2 linked regions of the Homo sapiens genome follow. The protein of the gene in region 2 purifies or fractionates together with the protein of the main gene of each other region. This does not show direct contact. Each region holds a gene or a part of one and is shown on either strand. Other genes may lie near its edges.

The links.
Region 1: the proteins of TLR8 (region 2) and RNF216 purify together in Homo sapiens (affinity purification with western blotting, with the first as the bait; one study listed by BioGRID). This does not show direct contact.

Annotation. Positions count from the first base shown.
Region 1 is NC_000007.14:5,736,643-5,740,298, forward strand, and holds part of RNF216 (E3 ubiquitin-protein ligase RNF216), read right to left. Parts: intron 2,711-3,656; coding exon 2,634-2,710; intron 1-2,633.
Region 2 is NC_000023.11:12,913,111-12,916,766, reverse strand, and holds part of TLR8 (toll-like receptor 8 isoform 2 precursor), read right to left. Parts: intron 1-3,656.

The sequences.
Region 1 (3,656 bases), on a different chromosome or scaffold from region 2:
CTTCCCGGCCACCATCCCTTCTAGGAAGTGAGGAGCGTCTCTGCCGGGCCACCCATCATCTGAGACGTGGGGAGCGCCTCTGCCCCGCCGCCCCATCTGGGATGTGAGGAGCGCCTCTGCCAGGCTGCGACCCCATCTGGGAGGTGAGCAGCGTCTCTGCCCGGCCGCCCCGTCTGAGAAGTGAGGAGCCCCTCCGCCCCGCAGCCACCCCATCTGAGAAGTGAGGAGCCCCTCCGCCCGGCAGCCGCCCCGTCCGGGAAGTGAGGAGCCCCTCCGCCCGGCAGCCGCCCCGTCCGGGAGGTGGGGAGCACCTCTGCCCGGCTGCCCCTTCTGGGAAGTGAGGAGCCCCTCTGCCCGGCCGCCACCCCGTCTGGGAGGTGTTCCCAACAGCTTATTGAGAACGGGCCATGATGACGATGACAGCTGTGTCGAATAGAAAAGGGGGAAATGTGGGGAAAAGATAGAGAAATCAGATTGTTGCTGTGTCTGTGTAGAAAGAAGTAGACATAGGAGACTCCATTTTGTTCTGTACTAAGAAAAATTCTTCCGCCTTGGGATGCTGTTGATCTATTACCTTACCCCCAACCCAGTGCTCTCTGAAACATGTGCTGTGTCCACTCAGGGTTAAATGGAATAAGGGCGGTGCAAGATGTGCTGTGTTAAACACATGCTTGAAGGCAGCATGCTTGTTAAGAGTCATCACCACTCCCTAATCTCAAGTACCCAGGGACACAAACACTGCGGAAGACCCCAGGGTCCTCTGCCTAGGAAAACCAGAGACCTTTGTTCACTTGTTTATCTGCTGACCTTCCCTCCACTATTGTCCTGTGACCCTGCCTAATCCCCCTCTGCGAGAAACAACCAAGAATGATCAATTAAAAATAATAATAATAATAATAATAATAAATAAATAAATATAAATCTGATGACAGTGGTTGCCTCTGTACAGAGGTGGGATCAGACAAGGCCACTAATGGCTCCAACAGTGTCATTGTACAAATTAGAAAAAAGTACCTACATTGGGCTAAGCACCTGGAAAGGGGCCCTTCCTTCTCAGCCTTGGCAGGGAAGAAACTCACCTGCAACCTTGACTGAGAACTACAGTATAAGATAGGAACTTTGGGGAAAGGTGTTTAGTGAACTATTTTGTTTAAATTTACCACCAGGCTGAGCACGGTGGCTTATGGCTGTAATCCCAGCACTTTGAGAGGTGGAGGTGAGCAGATCATGAGGTCAGGGTTTCAAGACCAGCCTGACCAACATGATGAAACCCTGTCTCTACTAAAAATACAAAAATTAGCCGGACAGGGTGGAGTACGCCTGTAATGCCAGCTACTCAGGAGACTGAGCAGGAGAACTGCTTGAACCTGGGAGGTGGAGACTGCTGTTTAAGCCAAGATCGCACCACTGCACTCTAGCCTGGGCAACAGAATAAGACTGTCTCCAAAAAAAAAAAAAAAAAAAAAAAAAAAAAATTACAATTATTTCACCTCTGCAGATTAGAAGGAGGGGAAAGAGTATATTTTTCATTTTATATTCTTCAGGAAAACTTATTTTTTAAAAAAGCATATTTACCACTTATAAAAAATTTTTTTAAAATAAGAGACAAGGTCCCACTCTGGCTCCCAGGCTGGAGTGCAGTAGCGTAACACAGCTCACTGCAGCCTTGAATTCCTGGACTCAGGCAATCCTCTTGCCTCAGCCTCCCAAAGTGCCAGAATTAAAGGTGTGAACCATATGTCTGGCCCGTATTTATCCCTTTTATAATGAAAATTAAGAAATATGGCTGGGAGCGGTGGCTCACACCTGTAATCCCAGCACTTTGGGAGGCCGAGGCGGGTGGATCACGAGGTCAGGAGATCGAGACCATCCTGGCTAACATGGTGAAACCCCATCTCTACTAAAAATACACAAAATTAGCCAGGCGTGCTGGCAGGCGCCTGTAGTCCCAGCTACTCGGGAGGCTGAGGCAGGAGAATGGCCTGAACCTGGGAGGCGGAGCTTGCAGTGAGCCGAGATCGCACCACTGGACTCCAGTCTGGGAGACAGAGTGAGACTCCGTCTCAAAAAAAAAAAAAAAAAAAAAAAAATGCTTCCATGTATTTCTCCAAACAGAGTGGTTGCAGAACATTTTGTTACAATCGTAGGGAAGAAAATGTCTTAACATCTTGACTAAAACACAGGTAGTATCAACGCTTAGAAACAACTCAGTTATCATAATTCTATAACCATGCAGTATTCCATAAAATCCAGAAAACAGTCTGTGTATCACTAATGTCAGAACGAACAAGGTCATTAAAAAAGACATAATGCCAAGTGAAATAAGCCAGTCAGAAAAGAACAAACACATGAGGTCCCTGATAGTAGCCAAATCCATATAGAAAGAAAGTAGGATGGTGGGTGCCACTGGCTTGGGAAGGGGATGGGGAGTGAGTGTTTAATGCGGACAGAGTTTCAGTTTGAGAAGATGAAAGAGTTCTGAAGATGGATGGTGGTGATAGTTGCATAATAATGTGAATTTACTTAACAACACCAAATTGTATATTTAAAAATGATTAAAATGGTAAATTTTTTATTACATATATTTTACCACCACCACCACCACCACAAAAAAAGCATGGTAGTATACTTACACATTCAGATCATAATAATTCTTAAAATGAATTATTTCCTCAATAAACCCATTTGCTACATCTGGAAATCTTGCTTCCTAGAAACAAATAAGAACATAATTTATATTTCATTCACTAGAATGGTTTCAAATGGCAATACAAGACAGATGGCAAAAAGTATAATAAAATGACTAAAGACTAGAAAAGGGCTGTGAAGCAGGTCTGTGTGTGTCTTCAAATTCAACACTAGTTCCCAGATTCATCTGTCTACATAGAAGATGAGGTCTAGAAAGGTCTTGAGAGATCTGGTTCTCTGTCCCCATTTTACAGATCCATTCTTCATTGCTTCAACAAATATTGAGCATCTCTGTCTAGACAAAGGGAATCCAAACACAAATAAGTTACAATCTCATGCCAGCCCTCAAGCAGCACACAACCTAGTGCCTAGATAAAAACACCTGGGTGGCCGGGTGCAGTGGCTCATGCCTATAATCGAAGCACTTTGGGAGGTCGAGGCAGGCGGATCACCTGAGGTCAGGAGTTCAAAACCAGCCTGGCCAACATGGTGAAACCCCGTCTCTACTAAAAAAATACAAAAATTAGCCAGACGTGGTGGTATGTGCCTGTGATCCCAGCTACTCGGGAGGCAGAGACAGAAGAATCGCTTGAACCCAGGAGGCGGAGGTTGCAGTGAGCTGAGATCGCACCACTGTACCCCAGCCTGGGTGACAGAGTGAGACTCGGTCTCAAAAAAAAAACAAACCAAAAACAAAACAAAAAAAACCCGCCTGGGTAAAGTAGGGTTAACGGACTTGTTTGAAGGCAAATAGTGGCTACCAGATGTAACACCTTTTTTTTTTTTTTTTTTTTTTTTTTTTTTTTTTTTTTGTGAGATAGAGTCTCACTCTGTCGCCCAGGCTGGAGTGCAGTGGCACGATCCTGACTCACTGCAAGCTCTGCCTCCTGGGTTCACACCATTCTCCTGCCTCAGCCTCCCAAGAAGTTGGGACTACAGGCGCCCGCCACCACGCCCGGCTAATTTTT
Region 2 (3,656 bases):
TTTATGAGACTTGGAGTGGAGAACTCAGGCAAACCTGCCCAGATTCTAACTTACAGAAATTAAGGCCAATCAATGGGCATTCTTTGAAGCCTCTACATTTGGGAGCGATTTGTTCTGCAGTAATAGAAAACTAATATATCTAGATGCTATGAATTCTAAGATGATTTATGGCTTGAAAACATGGAGCTCCTGCAGAGGCAGCCACAGGTCTCCAGGCTTCACATCTGTACCGGGAGACACAGGCACACCAAAGGAAGGGGCAACGGGGCTCAGACATGCAAGGCACTTTGAGGGAGACGCCACAGGCAATGCTATATTTGTTCAGGCACCTGAGCAGATCTCAGCCTGTGTGATTTCCAAGTTCCAACATTGCTAGATTTCAAAGTCACTTTCCGGACTCATCCCTGCCTTGATTAGCTAGTGGGTGGCCTGGGAAGTCTGTTCGATTACACTCACAATATATGAATTGGCTCCCAGTCTCATGGGTACAACAGATATGACTTAAACACAACATTACAAGGTTTACACTGTGATAAAAAAGAAGTGCATGACACTGTAAGAGCCTAAGAAGAGGGGACTTTGGCCTAGTCAAGGCAACTGGGGAAGATTTCCATAAAGAAGTGGAACCTAGGCCGAGGCGGGCCGATCACCTGAGGTCGGGAGTTCGAGACCAGCCTGGCCAACATAGAGAAACACTGTCTCTACTAAAAATACAAAATTAGCTGGGCGTGGTGGTGCATGACTATAATCCCAGCTACTCAGGAGGTTGAGGCAGGAGAATCACTTGAACCCAGGAGGCAGAGGTTGTGGTGAGCCAGGATCACACCATTGCACTCCAGCCTGGGCAACAAGAGTGAAACTCCGTCTCAAAAAGAAAAAAAAAAAAGGAGTGAAACCTGAACTGCAATCCTAAGGTTGAGTAGGCATGTGTAAGGCACAACCAAGATGTCAAAGGAATTTTTCAGGAAAAGGGAGCAGCATGTGCAAAGGCCCTGTGTCTATTCCCGTGAGTTTCCCAGGCTGTACCTCCAGAGAAGCCCTGGGACAGGAATTCAGAGAGATATGGTGTGGGTCTAAGACAAGGCACATCAGCTTTCATGTTTGCCATGGTAGGACTGCTTGCCACAGTGGGGCCCAGAGGACTGGAATGGCACAGAGGAAGTGGCTAATGGAGATGTCGTTGAGGTTCTCAGTATCTCCATGTCACTATGTTCTGTGGACATTTTTCAGTCCTCATCTTACTAAGCACATAAGTTTAAGAGACTGAGAGAAAGCCAGGGACTTGAGTAAAGACCAGAGTGGACCAGGCACAGTGGCTCACGCCTGTAATCCCAGCAGTTTGGGAAGCTGAGGCAGGTGGATCACTGGAGCTCAGGAGTTGGACACCAGACTGGGCCATGTGGCGAGATCCCATCTCTACAAAAAATACAAAAACAAATAGCGGGGCATGGTGGCTCATGCTTGTGGTCCCAGCTACTTGGGAGGCTGAGACTGGAGAATCGCCTGAGACTGGGAGGTGGAGGCTGCAGTGAGCCATGATTGCGCACTGCACTCTAGCATGGGGGACAGAGACCACCCGTCTCAAAAAAGGAAAAAAAGGCCAGAGTAGGTTTAAAAAATATTAATTAAATTGACAACTAAAAAGTGTATGCATTTATGATGTACAACATGATGTTTCGAAATATGTATACATGTAGAATGCCTCAGTCAAGCTAATTCACATATGCATTACCTCATATACTTATCATTTTTTGGTCATGAGAACACTTAAAATGGACTCTCTTAGTGATTTTCAAGTGTATAATATGTTGTTATTAACTATAGTCACCATATTGTACAATAGAGTTCTTCAATAGAACTTTTTCCTCCTGCCTAACTGAAATTTTGTGTCCTATTACCAACGTCTCCCCAATCTCTTCATCTGAGAAGTGATGTGAGCCTTTGAAGGTTTTTAAGCAGGGTGGCACCATGTTTAGATTGATTCTACAGTGTTCACTGGCAAGAGGGCACAGAACTTCAGTCATGAGATGATGGGAGTTTGAACTAGGGTGGTGGCAATAGAGATAGAAAAGAACGCGTTCAAGAGATATTTGGGAGGTACATTTGAGAGACATAGCAATGGATGAATAAAGGGAGGTAGAGGTTGTGAGGGAGAGGGATGCAATCAGAGTGACTTCTAGGTTCCTGGTCTGTGCACCTGGAGGGATGGGTGTCATTCACTGAGCAGGAAGATTGTTTGGGGTAGGGCTACTAGTAATTAAATTTGACAGGTTTGCTTTTGAGTTGAGTTTGTGATATTCAAGTAGAGGTGTCCAGTAGGCAGCTGAGTATGTGGGTCTGAAGCTCAGAAGAGAGTTCTGACAGAGGAATGAATTTGGGATTCATGACAATTGAAGCCATGGGTATGAATGAGATCACTCAGGGCAGTGTAAGGCATAAAGGATCTTCCACACTTCAGTTTTATGAACAATTTTCTCATCTTTTTCCTAGTAATTTTTTATGATTTCATTTTCTTATCCCACTGGAATTGTTTAGGTATAAAATGTGAGGTGTAGACCCACATTATTTTTTTCTAAATGGAGACCCATTTACCCTAACGTTATTAATTGGATGGTCTTTTGCTCACTGATTTTATAGGCTTCCTGTATCACATACTAACTCTTCTGTTATTTGGATCTATTTCTAGGCTTTTTGCTCTGTTTCATCAATATGTTAGTATTTAATACATACTTGGTATAAATATGTAACAGGTATATGCATTAATGAAAAGACAAATAACCCAATAGAAAAATTGAAAAAATATATTAACAGACAGTTCACATAAAAAGGAAACATAAATTGCTCTTAAAGCATAGGAAAAGATACTCAACCTCACTCAAAAATTACACTGTCATACCATTTTTCACTGATTCTGTTAGGCAGTTGAGGATATGGGGAAACAAACACTCTTAAATTTTGCTGGCAGGAATCTAAATTAACACCACCTCTAAGATGGAGGGTAATGTGTAATATCTATCACAATTGGAAACATATACTTGGAGTTGGCAATTTCAATTCTAGAAGTAGATCCTAAAGACACACCCTCATATATGCAAATGTCTGTATACAAGGATGTTCATTGCAAAGGCTGTTAGCAATAGCAAAAGACCGGAAATAATCTAAATGCCTATGAGTAGTAGTCTGGGTAAATAAACGATATTATGTTCACACAATGAAATACCATGTGGCAATTAAACGGATAAGGCAATGCTATATTCATTCATTCATTAAATATTTATTAGGCAGATATTTTATTTCAGGAACTGTATTTGAGTTGCAGATAAAACAATGAACAAACCAGGCTAAAATACTTGCCCATTTTGAAAGATAGAATGTTAGATGGTGGAAAGTATTGTGGAGAAAAATATAACTGGGAAGGGAAATGGTTATGTAGAATGTCCCTGGGCGGGGACTTATCTGATGCTTTTGTTATGATTAGATCGAGCTGATGAGTCTAGGGGAGGAAGATCACAGAAGTGCAGGGCCATTCTAGCCATATCATATGAAGGGTGCATGCTATCAACATGACTTTCACTATTTATGTGTACCTTGATCATCTGACTGAGGTAGTGTTTGTCAGGTCCTTATTATAATTTTTAACTACAGATTAACACAAA